2 separate regions of the Homo sapiens genome follow, and region 2 is linked to region 1. Evidence: fine-mapped expression QTL. Tissue or cell type: prefrontal cortex. Region 1 holds a variant in brackets; the other region holds the start of a gene. All regions are shown on one strand. Distances are from middle to middle.

Region 1 (8,106 bases):
ATATAACACTTTTTATAAGGAAATGCAGAGAAAATCCTATTCTTTTTATGAAAAGGATATGCAGGCAGAGAAAACTAATTGGAGGACAGGGATAAAAATTGGGATGTACAGTGCTTAGATGGGAGTAGGGGTAATTCTTATTTTTCTTCATCTTATTGTGTTTTTTTTCAAACTGCCATAATAAACATGTACTTCATGTTGAAAAAATTAATAAAAGTTATAGTTTTAAAAACATGAAGGGCCACACTCATGCATGCATATGCACACACACACACACACACACACACACACTCCAACCCAACCCAAAGTGGTGCAAGACTATATATTCATATACTTTCTGTCAGTGCCGGCAAATGCTCTTGCCACCTCGCTGCATTCATTCAGTTTTCTTGGGGATAAACAGTCTCTGAAATTGTAGAATCTTCTCCCATACAAACACAGGAAATCCCTGCAGGCTCTTCACCTCCCCAGTTCTGTTAGGAGGTAGGCAGCTGCTATGTAGCATTATTCTTCATGGCCAGAGGTAGTACCAAGATAGGGATTCAGCTGCTCTGTTCTTCCACTCTGCAAATCTTCTGCAAGCACGTGAGCAGGCCAGGGAGGGGCTGCCGCCATTTGGTGGTGAAGACACTCTGCTTGTGAAGGGCAACAAGTCAGAGGTCTCTAAGGGCCCCCTCGGCCCTGTCTGTCTGGCCCATCGTGGGCTTGTTCTTCACTAATTGTCTCTCACTGCTGACAGAGCCCACGAGTGTCTTTATGCGTGACAGATTCCTTGCAAATGGTGAATGGCGGAAAGATGACCCAGCTAATCATCAGACCTGCTTCTAAAATGCCATCTAGTCAGACGCAGCAGAGCCCAGCTCTACTCACTCATCCATGAATGTGACTCTGAGCTGTGAGAACAAAAGCCAAAGCAACTCTCTATTAGGAAACCCAGGGGGAAGACAGCAATGTAATAAGTCCCAGGTTCAAAATGACAAGTGATTCACTGAAGATGCCACAGCAGTACAGTCTATCACTGGGCACAGTGATATGGCCAAAAGCATGAGAATTTTATAAGATAATGAATTATTGGCTGGGCTACAAAATGAAAAATTTGAACTGATAAGGCCAGTAGACTATCCTTTTGAACCGAATTCACTGGAAGAATAAACTGTGGCATAGCAGCTCTTTTTTAGTAACAGGAATATGGTTACAAGATGCCTGAAAGGATGTTATCCACACACTATTGTCATCTTTTTAAGTACCCACTTCGTGCTCAATTCTACCATTCCATAAATTTATTCTTGGAATGGAGAGAAATAAAAAACATGATTTTTTTCTCCCTTTTGAAAAATCCTGAGTTATGTTAGAATTAGGAAACAGATTCCGTAATTATTAAGAAGGATAGATCACAGACTGGCCCCATTGTAAAGTTTATAAAATCAAATCCCATTTTAAAGCTTAGTAAGAAATGTGGCAATAGTAGCTCCTCCCACAGTGCCCTCAGCTTTCAGCCACTATTCAGCTTTGCCTGTGGTCTAACCATACCTTCAGCCACAGTGGCGGCAAATTAACAGCTACCATTTCCTGAAAGCTGACAATGAGCTGCATCTGGATGTGCTGTTGGCGGACATTATTGCTTTAATCATCACAAAGACCTCAGAGGTGAGTACAATCATTTCCCCATTCTGCCAATGAGGAAACTGAGGTGTAGAGAGGGTAAGTAACTTGTCCAAGGCCATACACCTAGTAGGCGGGGAGCAGGATTCAAGCTTCTTCAATGAGCATGCAAGAGAGAAGGGGAGGAGCCCTGTGGAGCAGTTGGAAAGGCTCAGGAGCCGGCACCCAACCTCATTCACCCTGGGCCAATCACTCAATCTCTGTACAGAAGGAGGTGAACCACCTTGCCCACTGCCCCACAGCATTGCTGAGAGGTCCAAATGAGATCACATACAGGAAAAGCCGTGAAAACAGTAAAGCATTCTATAAACACCATGTGCTATTGATAAAAGGACAGAAGACTAAATCATACTCCTTAGGAGCACAACACTTCAGTCATTCTGGCTTCAATGGAAAGACCACACCCCCTCTCGTCCCCTGACTTAATGCTTTCAATAAACAGCACAGGATTTTCTCGAGCGATCTTTTAAAGATGAAGGGCTCGGGTATGCATGCTGGTCCTTGAACTGGTCTTTGCAGGGAGCTTTAGTGTCTTACAATATTTAATACAGACATCCTGCCTGAGCTATTTATCCTGACTTGGGAAAGTAACCATTTCACTGTTACTATTAATTCTGTTCCAAAAAGAAAAAAAAGACTATTGTAATTTTACACCCTTAATCTATGCAACACAGGAATGAGAAAGAAAAAAAAAAACCCAACACGGTACTTTCTCATGAGTGAGGCACATTATATATAGTAATTCGCATTTTATTATTTTATCATTATGAATAGTAAAGTCCACAGTTCAGTCCTCAGACAACATTCAGGTAAATGTTTTACATATGAGACACCTGCCTGTAATGTGATGACATGAGATATATATATGGATATATATATATATGGATATATATTTTGAACCACTGTGATTTACTAGTCTATTAAAATGCCATTACACATTTAAAAACTGAACAATTACAACAATGCAATCTTCAAGCAATTAAAAACAAAGAATTGTTGAGCCAACATGGGAGATCTGCTGAGTAATCTGGCCTTTCAAGTAATGTCTAGTGGAAACCCTGTTTTCTCCTTCCATCTGAAGATCATCAAAAATAAAAAACAAACCTACACAAAAAACCACCTGCTCTGAGTGAAAGTCAGGATTCAGCCCACATGACTCAGGGACACACTCCCCAGCGGTTGCTGGAGGCACCATCACTCCAACATGTGCAGGAGCAGCGAGGGGTCCACCTCCACAGCCCGCAGCCCGTTGTGCAGGCTCTGGAAGGTGGCCTGCTTCCCGAAGCGCTGCCGCCAACGGATGAAGGCCTCCACCACCTGCGACTGCACGTTGTGGGGGTGGTTGGCCTTACAGCGGTAGATATCCGTCTGGGACAGTCCCAGAGACA[G/A]CACCATGGGCTCCCACTCAGGGCCCAGCCTCTGGGCCAGCTGGTTAATCTGCCGGTCTGATGGGGAGCTGTTGAGGATGTGCGAGGGGATCCCAGTCAATCTGTCACCTGAGGAGGAAAAAGACACCCCGGTGAAATGAGCAAGGCAACAAACACATCATTTGGGGGCAGAAATGAGAATCGTGGGGAGAAGAAGGCAATGCTTCCAAATGGCAGAGCCAATTGGCTCTTGTCTTCTTCCTGGGGGCTGCTCTGTACAACGCCATGATTCAGGGCTTCAATGCTGTTAAGTATCTGTGAAAATGTTTTTACAGAAACTTTTTTTTTTTTTTTTTTTGAGACGGTGTTTCACTCTGTCACCCAGGCTGGAGAGCAATGGCATGATGTTGGCTCACTACAAACTCCACCTCCTGGGTTGAAGTGATTCTCCTGTTTCAGCCTCCCAAGTAGCTGGGATTACAGGCAACTGCCACCATGCCCAGCTAATTTTTGTATTTTTAGCAGAGACAGGGTTTCACCATGTTGGCCAGGCTGGTCTTGAACTCCTGACCTCAGGTGATCCACCTGCCTTGGCCTCCCAAAGTGCTAGGATTACAGGCGTGAGCCACAGCACCCTGCCTGTTACAGAAACTTTGAAAGCAACAAAATAAAAATAACTAGAAATCCCACCAGAAAAACTCATTGATAATAACTAGTCTATTTTCTTTGATATATAAAACACACATGAAGGGTTACCTCGTACATGCTGCTTTGTAACAGGCTTTTTTCACTTCTATCCCTTTTACTCAAGGCCAGGCAAGGCATTCTGGGGGAATTCAAGAATGGCTGCACAGACCCCAGCTCCCTCTGGCACTGTCTGTGGCCTTAGTGATGGGGCCTGTTCCAAGGCTGGGAATGCCCCTCCCTGCAGGAAAGGCACGTGCTAGAGGACAAAGGCTAAACCAAACAGCTACCCTCGCCGATGAGGTTGAACTTGAAATATTACCGAGAAAACGTGTAGCTGCTAACAGAAGCCAGAGCCAAGAGGGCTGCTGAGAACAAAATAAACCTAAGAGGCCATAGGGTAGCAGGAAGGGAAGAGAGCGGGGTTTGTTCATAGCAGAGGCCACAAGAGTGGAGTTACCGTTCTGGCAGAGCCCAGAAGAGGAACAGGAAGTATGAGACGGGGCAACGAGGAAATCTGACCTTACACTTCCTGAACTAGATTCTTATTTGCCTGAGGCCAGTCTGCTAAGAAGCATGACATTGAGTGAATGGTTATAAATGTGCCCAGCAAAACCAGTGAGCAGTGCCTTTGGTTATACAGAGGAGCTCCTAACTTCATTAGGGAAGGCCTTCCAGGGGAAGGAGGCTAAAGCTAAGCCCTGAACACTAGGAGGAGGAGCTGGGTGATGAAGGAGGAACAGGGCGTGGCGCATCTCGAGAAGAGAGAATTGCATGTGCAAAGGCCCAGAGGCAGGAGAATCGCAATGGAGGAAGTGAAAGGCACTCACAGCAGCCAAGTGCAGAGATTGAGACGGACTCCAAACATCCAAAGTCATTTGCTAGGTTCAGACATTTGTTTGACAGCACAGTACACTATACTCCCATCCATCAGCATCACAGGGATTCAGGTCAGTCTACTTCATGCTCATCAGTCCACTATTGTGTTTTGATTTATGATTCAATAAGAAGGCAAAGGCACCTTATTACAAGAGCTGATGTTTTCCACAGCCCATGTCTTTGGCCTCTGGGCAGCGGCCAGCACCTTAGAGATGAGTTGCAAAAATATTGTCAAGGGCTCTTTCTGGTGTTTGTCAACACTACAATTTAAAAAACAATGACTATGACGCAATTAGAATACTGATGACACTACTGATCAATAGTTGAGATTAACAGCAATGATTTTACGGCTTGTATAAAAACATAGGCTCATTAAAAAAAAAATAAAGCAACAGAAAACAGCGCAAAGAAGAAAAGAAATCATCCAATATCCCGCTATTGTGTTTACAGTTGGTGACCATCATTCTGGATATCTCTGTATGCACATACACTGGTAGAAGGCTAGATAGAGGGTAATGGGTTCATTTAAAATGATAACATATGACCTTTTCTTTCCAGTAAGAGCTATGTAATTTTGTTTGGATGTAACAGAAGAAAAAGCAGAAGTGAAACAAAATGACATTCTGACCAGCGGTTACAAGTTAACATACTTGAAAACATACACACACACAATTTAATGCACAGAAAAAAGTTACGAAAACTCAAGGGTTAACTGCATGTTTTTATAGAAATACTCTATAATTACTTTACATTTCCTCTCCACTTCCTCACACTTGATTTTTTTTCACTTACATAATTTTTATTTTGCCAGATGCCTAATAGTTATACATTTCTTTAACAATCATCCATGCCCCCTTGCCCCATTGTTTAGTCCTAAGGTGGCATTGTAATGGTTGAATGCTCACCAGTGTTTTGTTGTTGTTGCTGTTGTTACTGTTCTTCATCTGTGGCTTTTCTACTCCTGGGTCTGTTCTTCTGATTTGAGTCATTTGGGTCAATTTCATCACAGGGAGGTTTTTTTTTTTTTTTTTTTTTTTCAAGCAATGCTCATGACTGCCATAGTCTCTTGACTTCTTTCAGGTCAAGGCATCCTGCTTATTGCCTTCACTGGAATAATAACTTAATATTTAGAGAACAATTTTATATTATTTTTATCTTTTTATATTCTTAACAGTATAATATAAAATTATATTCATAATTTTAAATTATATTATTTAAATAATGTTATTTCCCTTAAAAGTTTGTAGACCTTGTTCGTACTTTATGGTAGGGGTTGCTGATGTGGAGAATTCTGATACCAACTTAGTCATCCAGTATTTTGTGTAACTTGCTTTTCCTGTCTGAGGTCTAAATACTGAAACTTTAGACCAGGGTATATGTTATCCATTCTACATCTGCACTTTCAGATATGTGGCATAACCTTCTTTTTTTCTGAGACGGAGTCTCGCTCTGTCATCCAGGCTGGAGTGCAGTGGCGTGATCTCAGCTCACTGCAAGCTCTGCCTCCTGGGTTCATGCCATTCTTCTGCCTCAGTCTCCGGAGCAGCTGGGACTACAGGTGCCTACTACCATGCCTGGCTAATTTTTTTTTGTATTTTTAGTAGAGATGGGGTTTCACTGTGTTAGCCAGGATGGTCTCGATCTCCTGACCTTGTGATCCGCCTGCCTCAGCCTCCCAGAGTGCTGGGACTACAGGCGTGAGCCACTGTGCCTGGCTGGCATAACCTTCTAACCAAAGATTCAGTTGTTTCTTCCTTTTGGGAAAATCTTCCTGGGTCACATGGTTGCATTCTTTTCTTGCTCCATATGCTGGATGGCTGTGCCTCTCCTCCATGGCTGTTATATTGTCCTTATTGCTTTAATCCCCTCCTTGGGATTATCTCACTCTTTGATTTTCAGCTATGTCCATCGTGTGTGTGTGTGTGTGTGTGTGTGTGTGTGTGTGTGTGTGTGTTCTGGTTTTAACGTTGTATTGTGTTTTTGTTCTTTATTTCTTTTCTTGGCTCTATCTTTTAAAAAATCCATTCCACTTCACACTCATTAGGAGAGCTACTATCAAAACAAAACAAAACAAAACAAAAAACAGTAAGTCCCAAATGTTGGCAAGGGTGTGGAGAAATTGGAACCCTTGTGCACTATTGGTGGGAATGGAAAATGGTGCAGGTGCTGTGGAAAACAGTATGGCAGTTCCTCAAAAATTTAAAAATAGAATTAGCATATGATCCAGCAATCCCACTTCTGGGTATATACTCAAAAGAATTGAATGCAGGGACTCAAAGAGAAATTCGTACACCTATGTTCATAGCAGCGTTATTCACAATAGCCAAAGGTGGAAGCAAACTGAGTATCCACTGGATGAATGGATACGCAAAATGTCAGAGACATACAATAGAATATTATTCAGCCTTAAAAAGGATGGAAATTCTGACACATGATCCAACATGGATGAATCTTGAGGACATTACACTAAGTAAAATAAGCCAGTCACAAAAGGACAAATACTTTCTGATTCTATTCATATGAGGTACTTGGAGTTGTCGAATTCAGATACAGAAAGCAGAATGCTGGTTGCCAGGGGGTGGGGGAGGGAGAAATGGGGAATTATTGTTTAATGGGTACAGAGTTCCAGTTTTGAAAGATGAAGACTTTTGGAGATTGGTTATAAAACAATGTGAAGGTACTTAACACAACTGAATTGTACATTTAAAAATGGTTACAATGGCAAATTCTATGTTATGTACATTTTACCACAATTAAAAATAAAAATTAAAAGAATCCCATTGTTGTTTTATCATGATGACATCTTGAGTTTTTGTTTCTACTCAATTGATGCTGAGTCTTTCTATAGCATAAAATACTTGTGAGGTTGAGTTTTCTAGGACTGGGTTTTCTTATAGACCAGATTGGTTGTATGTTTATTTTTGCAAGCTGTGTTCCTTTCTTTTCTTTATTAAAAATATATATATATATATTTAATAGAGACAGGGTCTTGCTGTGTTGCCCAGGCTGGTCTCAAACTCCTGGCCTCAACTGATCCTCGTGACCCAGCCTCCCAAAGTTTTGGGATTACAGGTGTGAACCACTGTGCTCAGCCAACAAGCTGTGCTCCTCTCTTGCATTCCTCTGCTGCAGCATTTCACAGAACAGTCATGACACTCACTGCCATCTTGTTCATACTTATAACGTGAACATCTCTGTCCAGAACTGCTCTTTGCTCTCCCAGAGCAAGCTGATGTATCTTTTGACACTCTCCTCACTTTATAGGGAACCAGGTGTCGTTCTACCTCTGAGCTACAACTTTAGGTTGGCTGCTGCTTTCCATGAACACTTCTGCCATGGAGGAGAGGCAGGAGTCATGAGGCCTGTCCTTGGGGGCTCTATACTCTGTCCTCTTTTGGAGGGGAGTTAAATGTCTTAGACCAGGGCCCACTCTGCCAAACCAGGGCAGACTCACTCCTATGGTCTCTTTCCTGTAACTCAACACAGAGACTAGGAGATGGCCTCCCCAGGTGCC
Region 2 (8,106 bases), 170 kb after region 1:
TAAAAGTGATTTTTAGGAGATAGGAAACTATAAAGTGAAGAAGTGAATGAATGATAAACCCCCAATTCAGGGCTTTTCACTGCGTGGGGGTTGGGAATGAGACAAGATTGGGAAGGAGTGCCCGGGGTTTTTAAAGGCAATCGTAATATTATTTTTCTTAAACTGAGTGATGAGGAGACGGGTGTTCGCTGTACCATTATTCTCCATATCTTACTTATATTTTGTAATATTATTTAAAATAGTCAATATTTAATAAATACAAGTCTTTTTTAAAAGAGTTTATGTGATTGTCACCGTGGAAGGTATTCAAAGACATATATAAATCAAACCCTCACTTCAGAATGTTTTTTTCAATAGCAGTGTTACTCAGTAAAAAGTAAAACAATTAAGATGACTGTACGAATTTGTTCCAGAGCCAACCTTCTACAGAATTAACAAATCTTGAGAAAAACCTTATTTTTCTAAACTTCTACACAGATATGCTCAATTTTTTTCCCATTATGTACTGCTTCATTCTGTTTGCTTTTTTAAAAAGCTATTTTTCCTCAGCTTCTCTGTAACTCTCATCATTTTGTAAAAAATGCCTTAATTCTTTCTAACTCTCTGAATGAATCTGAAGAAATAATGGGGTTATGGCCGAGCATGGTGGCTCACGCCTGTAATCCCAGCACTTTGGGAGGCCGAGGTGGGCGGATCACCTGAGGTCGGGAGTTTAAGACCAGCCTGACCAACATGGAGAAACCCCATCTCTACTAAAAATACAAAATTAGCCGAGCATGGTGGCACATGCCTGTAATCCCAGCTACTCGGGAGGCTGAGGCAGAAGAATTGCTTAAACCCGGGAGGCAGAGGTTGCAGAGAGCCGAGATCGCGCCATTGCACTCCAGCCTGGGCAACAAGAGTGAAACTCCGTCTCAAAAAAAAAAAAATGGTATTATACCTCTACGAATGACATACAACAGCATGATCTGTATCACCCAAAATGACCATAAAATTAAATTCAGTATTTTGATAGTGAAAGGCTTTCAGTTCACCTGTTTTGTTGTTTCCAACTATATGATGCCAGCAGAAACCTCTAAGTCAAATATCAGGAAAACACCAATAATTTTTTAACATTTCTCCAACTCTATGTTATCTATTCTGCTTTCAATAAAGTCATAAAAACATCTAGATACATTTTGTTCAGACATGTGGAGTATTTAATTTTGTAAGGACAATCCAAGCAGTGAATTCCAGTGGTCCTCAAAAGCCAGCTATGTCTAATATTTCAAAAAGCCTAAAGATACATTTAACTGTAACGAGCCCAGACTAGGAATGAAAATACTTTTGCTTTTTCCACTGGGATCTTACCAGGTCTTCCTAAAGTTAGCTGGCTATGTCATGCTGATCAGGTATTCAGACATATGTCAAAATATGAGGTCCATGGAGCAAAAATAGTAAAAGTGGTCTTATTATCAGTATTCATTTTTTTTAACCAGTATTTAAAAAATAGCAACCACGAAGTCTGGGGCCCACTGAACCGGAATAGTTCTATCACTCTTATCAGAAACCCCAGAGAACCTTGATTCTCTAACTTTGTTAAAAATTTGCAAGCCAACTTTCAATTACTTTTTTTTTTCAATTTTTAATTTTTGCCAGTTCAGTTCTCTGCCCCTCTATCTTTGTGAAACAGAGTCAAGGGAGGTTAAGAAAAAGCAAGTGTTTCCATATCACATCTTCTTCCTGCTACAAGCCAGGCTAACAGAACCAGAACTGTTTCTCTCTTCTCCAGCTTCCAATTCTCCTTCAAATTAAACTGAGACCCTCCCCAAACTATTGCTCTTTGCAAAATTAAATACTCCAGTGTCTGAACAAAGCTAAACTAAAAAGGACACTTTAAACGAATAACCTTTAAAAACAAACTAAGTCAGCCTTCAAAATAATCCCCTTTGGCCACACAGGACAGCCCAGGGGACAGGTGCAGGGCATGCCTTCCTAGAGGCTGTCTCCTCCTCCATGAATCTGACCTTTTCCAGCTGGTAGCTCTGGCACCTCACAAATCAGTTGTCAGTAGGCCGAATGCCTGCTTTCCCATCTGCACTTTCCAAATGGCTCCTGATGCCAACGGCTGAGATATGACCTGGCTCTCTGATGAGAACATGCTTCCCAAGTGACATGCCAGGTTTCCTGGAAGCATTTCTAAATGCATTCTCTGAGCTCCCTCCCTCACCTCCCAGTCACGGTTCATTCTTCCTTCCCTGCACTTCCTAATGCCACCTCCTGATCCTATTCCTCCAACGTCATGTCCCTTCAGTCCCAAATCCTTACCCACTTTCATCAACCATTGACCCTTGTCCTGCCTTACATCCCAACTTCAAATCCAAAGGGCATAGTTCTGGCTAGGTGTGGTGGCTCACGTCTGTAATCCCAGCACTTTGGGAGGCGGAGGTGGGTGGATCACCTGAGGTACGGAGTTCGAGACCAGCCTGGCCAACATGATGAAACCCCATCTCTACTAAAAATACAAAACTTAGCAGGGCATGGTGGCAAATGCCTGTATTCCCAGCAACTCGGGAGGCTGAAGCAAGTGAATTGCTTGAACCCAGGAAGCAGAGGTTGCAGTGAGCCGAGATCACACCATTGCACTCCAGCCTGGGCAACAGAGCAAGACTCTGTCTCAAAAACAAACAAACAAATAAACAAAAAAGCAAAGAGCATAGTTACAACATTTTGGAGCTGGTTCAAAGTGATCTTTCTGAGGCCTACCTGCAGGCAGGTCGGTCATGGCCTCTTCCCTTGCCTTCTTCAGCTTCTCCCTGACCCAGGGAAACTCCTGTAGGGAATCTAGGAATGTATCAAATGCTTTAGGGCCCCTGGAAGGTAGGATATCCAGCAGGAGCATTGTTTTCCGGAGGCCTGTGGTTTGAGCATTGATTTCTTGAATATGGTTTTCCGTCAAGATTCCTTCCTGGTAGAGGTACTGAAGAACCAGTCCCTCCACCAATACCTCTGCACCCAGCTCCAGGCGAAGTGAGCGGAGTACTTGTTTGTCTCTGGCCTCCATTTCTCCCTGGAAAGAGCCAAAATCACAGCTCAAATTACAGACATGTTGATGTGGCCCTAAAGACAGTGTCACTGCAATGTAAGTTCCTTCAGGTCAAGCACATCTTTAAACCATAGCAGACTGCCAGGTCATGGTATTTAATTCACTGATTAAGCCAAGCCAGGTTAATTTTGAATGTTTCCTAACATAATGAACAACAATGAAGATGAATCATCTTTTCTGTTTCTGCTTTTCACACAATGGGGTCCCAGCTCAATTCCTCGTTCAATAAAGAAATTTGGAAAAAGAAAAAAAAAAAGTGGGTCAGAGACCCTTCTGAACAAGCAATTTTTATCTGAAGATTACAGAGCAGCACTAATTTTAACACGCTGGAGAAGAAATGGTGGTTTTATTTTCACATTGCCCTCATCAGACCTGCACCACCACCACCAAGGCAGAAACTGCCAAGGTGGACGCAGGTCCCCTTTTTTTGATCACAAGTATTTGCAAAACCTGATCAGTAATAGGAGTGCAGGACAGAAATCAGCAGGTTCAGAATTTAAGGCTCTTTTCGCTAAAAGTCCTCTACACGATCACCTTTAAGAAAATTGTTGTTTGTGCCCAGTCTACAATAAACTTTACACAATATACAGTCACAGACTCCATTCCTTCCCACTAAGAATTCCGAATCTCCAGCACAACACTGTCGTGGCCGCACATGCATGGGACATTTTATGGGATTTTTTTCTTTCAAAAAAAGCACACACCCCAGCACTGGTCAGTAGCCAGGCACGATTTGAAGGTGCAGTTCCACCACCCCTGCACCAGTGTGCTGTGGCTTGGTTGTGTGTAAGGCAGTGAAGGTTAAGTGACCGGGAAGGCAGGCAGGGATGACAGATGGGGCTTCAGACACACCCGGGCAGTACGACCACGGCTAGGCGACACCCGATCCCACACTCCCCCTCGCAACCCTGTAAAGTTCAGGAGGTGACAGGTGAGGAGGGGAGGTGTTCACGTTTGGCCGTGAGCGCCCATTGGGAACTATTTAAAAAGGCTCTGCTTCGGCCGCTGAAACCCTTGTATCAAACAGGAAGACTACGGGCGGTTTCTGCGGCAACTTGACCCGCTAAAGAGGGAGTGCTGGGAATGAACTAAAGAGCGGACCAAGGGGAGAGCGGGCCTCCGGCACTGCCGCAGCCACCCAGCCTTGGCCCGGATCGGAAATGCGGAGCAAGTTAGCGGGGCGGGGAAGCCCCCGCAGGGCCCAGGTCGCAGACGCTACAATGCAGGACTTTCAAAGAAAGATGGATTCCTGTTACTTACGTCTGCAACCACGTATCTTTGGGGCGGGGGAGAAAAACTGCAACCGGAATCCTGACTGTTAGGGAACCTGCCCCATAAGCACCATCTTTGTTAATGGCGAAAACCCTAAACAGGAAGTGTTGACACCATCTTTGTTGAGGGCAAGTACAGGAAGTGCTGTCGCCATTTTTATTGAGCGTTCAAGGGTCGGATCGAAGCTCTTCCCGCCATGCTTACTGTGGGTAAACAATTCAATAGCGGGGAGATGGACAACCGTAGTGTCACTTAAAGGGTATCTAAGTAATGGAGTAATTGAATCATTGCATTTTAACACAGTAACTCCATCAGGGCCTCGCACACAATTGACCTAACAGAGAGGCAGGTCAAAAGCCACCCTAGTAGAGAAGCCTTCTCTGACCTATCTGATTAAAACGGCAAGACAGCTGCGCTCATTTCCTGCACTCCCCATTAACCAGCTTTATTTTTTACGCATCACCATCTTATTAAAACTTTTCACTTATTCATTTGTTTATCCTTCTGCTTCCCTCCATTAAAATGCAAGGTCATTTATTTATATCAAGGGTTCCTGCCCGCAAAGAGTTTACAAATCTGTCAGTCAGGATTTCATTGCAGCACTCAGCTAGTTACTCCTAGTCAGAAAGGGATTCGTTAGGGGGAATTGGGGACATTCGAAATCATTGGAAAGGCTGGAGAAGGGCTGAGCTGAACATCCATGGATGACTACCTAGATAAGATTGCTGATTGTGGCTGCTGCCCACAATCAGGAAGATGGCGTCAGGAAGTTGCCATGCCTGGTCCCCAACCTCCTCTCAACACCGACAGAACAATTAACAGGACACTGGAACAGTGCTGCAAAAAACGGTGGTCTCCACGGCTGCATTTGCCAGCAGCAAGAAAACAGCACCTGCAAATCTTGCTTTGCTGCGTGCCATTGGTGAGACCAATCTGACATGCAGAATATTAGCAGCAAGGATGTCTAGAGCATGTAGTTGGTAGCTTTCCAGCTTGTGAAACACAAAAAGGTATAGTAAATGAGGGAAGGCCTGACACTTAAAGCCAATCTACTGCATCCACCACATTTTCAATGTGGAAAGCAAGAAAAAATGCATGACCCAAATACAGAGAAACACAGCAATGCCAAATTGGGTGTCCTTCCTCACATTCCTTTGTGAAGCGAGGCAGGCGATCAATAAATACATTCATTGATTCATTTTTAAATCAATTGGATGATACATACAGAAAGTCATATGCTTACTAAAAATCAGTTGACAGTACAGGGGGAAAAAACTCCTAAAATATTATTTCTGCAAAGGTTTTCACAGCCAAACCCTTTGGTGGAAAATGAAAATATCTTTGTTAAGCAAATCAATGGAGAACAGTTCTGAACCTCCCTCCTCAAAACCTTCTAAAAATTGTATTCAATTTACAGCATTACTATGCCAGTTACCATTTTACTACACCGTTAATGACAGTATTTTTACCTATGTGGCAAGTATTATTATTATTACAGTCATGCATTGCATAACAATATTTGGGTCAATGACAGACTGCATATATGATGGTGGTCAGAGCAATAGGCTATGCTATATGGCCTAAGTATGTAGTAGGCTATACCATCTAGGTTTGCATAAGTACATCCTATTTTGTTTGCACAATGACACATTTTTCACAATGTATCTCCACTGTTACAACTGTTTTAGCATTTGCATGTATAAAGACTGTGGAATCAGAATGGTCAATTGTCTTAGGCAAAATCTCACAGCTAATATAGAGCAAAACTTGAAGTCTAATGAAGTTTCTCTGATTTCATGCTCTTTCCAATACACCATACAACCTTGTATAGTGAAGAGTTTATTGTTCTAATGATAGCCAAATATTATTTGCAAATCATCCTGTTGCCACCTCCCATTCTTGATACTCTTGAGTTCCAGGTGCTCTCTTTTCTCTCTCCCTTTTCCCCTTTTGCTTGAGAATCATTGTCCTTTCCTCAGCAAGATTTCCCATCTGTTCATAGACAAATGTTAGCACCATTCTTTGTCTTCATCCAGATAAAGTGCAGACCACTTGCAACACTGCCAAGCGTTGAAGTTTACAGGTTAAACATCCCTAATACAAAAATTTGAAATCCAGAATCCTCCAAAACCTGCCTGAGAGTGGTGGCTGACACCTGTAATCTCAGCATTTTGGGAAGCCAAGGCAGGCAGATCGTTTGAGCCCAGGAGTTCAGGGCCAGCCTGGGCAACATAGGGAAATCCCATCTCTACAAAAAATACAAAAAATTAGCCAGCCATGCTTGTGTACGCCTGTAGTCCCAGCTTCTCAGGAGGCTGAGGTGGAGAATCAATTGAACCCGGGAGGTGGAGTTTGCAGTGAAACAAGATCATGCCACTGCACTCCGGCCTGGGCGACAGAGAGAGACCCTGTCTCAGAAAAAAAAAAAAAAAGAAAGAAAAAGAAATGCTCCAAAACCTGAAGCTTTTTGGGTGTCAACATGACGCCACAAGTGGAAAATTCCACACCTGACCTTATGTGATGGGTCTCAGTCAAAACACAAACCTTTGTTTCATGTGCAAAATTATTTAAAATATTGTATAAAGTTACTTTCAGGCTATGTGTATAAAAAGTATATATGAAACATAAGTTTTGTGCTTAAACTTGGGTCCCATCCCCAAGTTACCTCATTATGTATATGCAAATATTCCAAAATCCCAAAAAATCCAAAATCCAAAACACTTCTGGTCCCAAGCATGTTGGGTAAGGGATCATCAACCTATACTAACTTTTTTAGAGAGGAAAAGCAAGTGGATTTTTTTCTAACTGTGAACTTCGATAAATTTCAAACATATAGGAAAGTTGAAACAAATAGCGCAATAAACGCCCATATAAAGTTTCATATTTCTTGATGACTCATCATATTTGGAAAGGCTTGAGATCTCCTAGAAGCTAGAAGGTGAGCCTTGATGATGATGCCCAGGAGGAGGTGGGGAACCAACAATAGGATCCGTGAGGGTTCACAGAAGAGAAGCAGCCAGAGACAGCAGGAGAGTGTCAGGGCAGCAGCCGAGGGGCATGGCGTCCTATGGTAAACAACCTGAAAGGGTGGCCATTAAAGATCTGACTTAAATCTGCAGCGTGAAGTCTTTAATCATCGAATGCCTCTTCCCATGGCAAATACAGATGAGGATCCATGCTGTCTCTTAAGCAACTAGGCTGAACGACTAGCCCACTGCCATCAGCCACCCCACCTCAGCATACAGCGATACTTCATGGCAGTACACCAAAGACCCAACTTTACTTAGACAGATTAGCTAAGGCCAGAGGGCTTCTAAGGAATGGAACACAGATCAGAATCATTATCACAGGTGGTTACTCCTCCGCTCTGGCCAGACCCTCTGTAATCTGAAATTGTGCCCCCACGGAGGATTAAGCACCTGTTACCCAGTGGTAACGAATCCACAGGAAGGACAGATATTTTCATTTTTCTCTCTCCCCTAGTATGTTTACTTGTGTCAAGATATCCCTATTGTGAGTTTGCAAAATAAAGAGTCAAAAAGAACAAATGCAGTATTTTTCTCTTTCGGTTTGGTCTTTGGTTTTGCAGCCTTCAAAAAATAAATAAAAGGAATTGGATGTTTTGGTTCTTCCTGTTTCATTGATGTAGAAATTAAGTCATGGGGAAAACCAGAGTCTTTTCAAGCATACTTGAAACATTTATTAAAATAGATCATAAATCAGGTCACAAAGAAGCATTAATAAATTCC

Alleles and levels. Positions count from the first base shown, and alleles are read on the strand shown. Sizes are in standard deviations (SD) of each study's normalised expression.
As copies of A replace G in region 1, the expression in prefrontal cortex of the gene that starts at base 4,443 in region 2 goes up (small effect, 0.36 SD a copy in ROSMAP).

Evidence for each region. PIP is the estimated chance that this variant, and not a neighbour inherited with it, causes the effect.
Region 2: CRADD starts here. The variant in region 1 is fine-mapped to the expression of CRADD in prefrontal cortex (ROSMAP, PIP 0.93).

What each region holds. Positions count from the first base shown.
Region 1 is chr12:93,845,022-93,853,127 of GRCh38, reverse strand. It overlaps CRADD (CARD and death domain containing adaptor protein), which reads right to left. Exons shown (of 3, transcript NM_003805.5): 3 at 2,372-3,158. The coding sequence ends at 2,857. Among named protein-coding and RNA genes, the nearest start is that of CRADD-AS1, 110 kb to the right of the region's middle. RefSeq lists an enhancer at 4,069-4,168 and a silencer at 5,085-5,134. The variant G/A (reference allele first, on the strand shown) is at 3,051.
Region 2 is chr12:93,673,712-93,681,817 of GRCh38, reverse strand. It overlaps CRADD (CARD and death domain containing adaptor protein), which reads right to left and starts at 4,443. Exons shown (of 3, transcript NM_003805.5): 1 at 4,346-4,443; 2 at 2,746-3,049. The coding sequence starts at 3,043. RefSeq lists enhancers at 1,941-2,755, 3,572-4,386, 4,359-4,598, 4,387-5,202.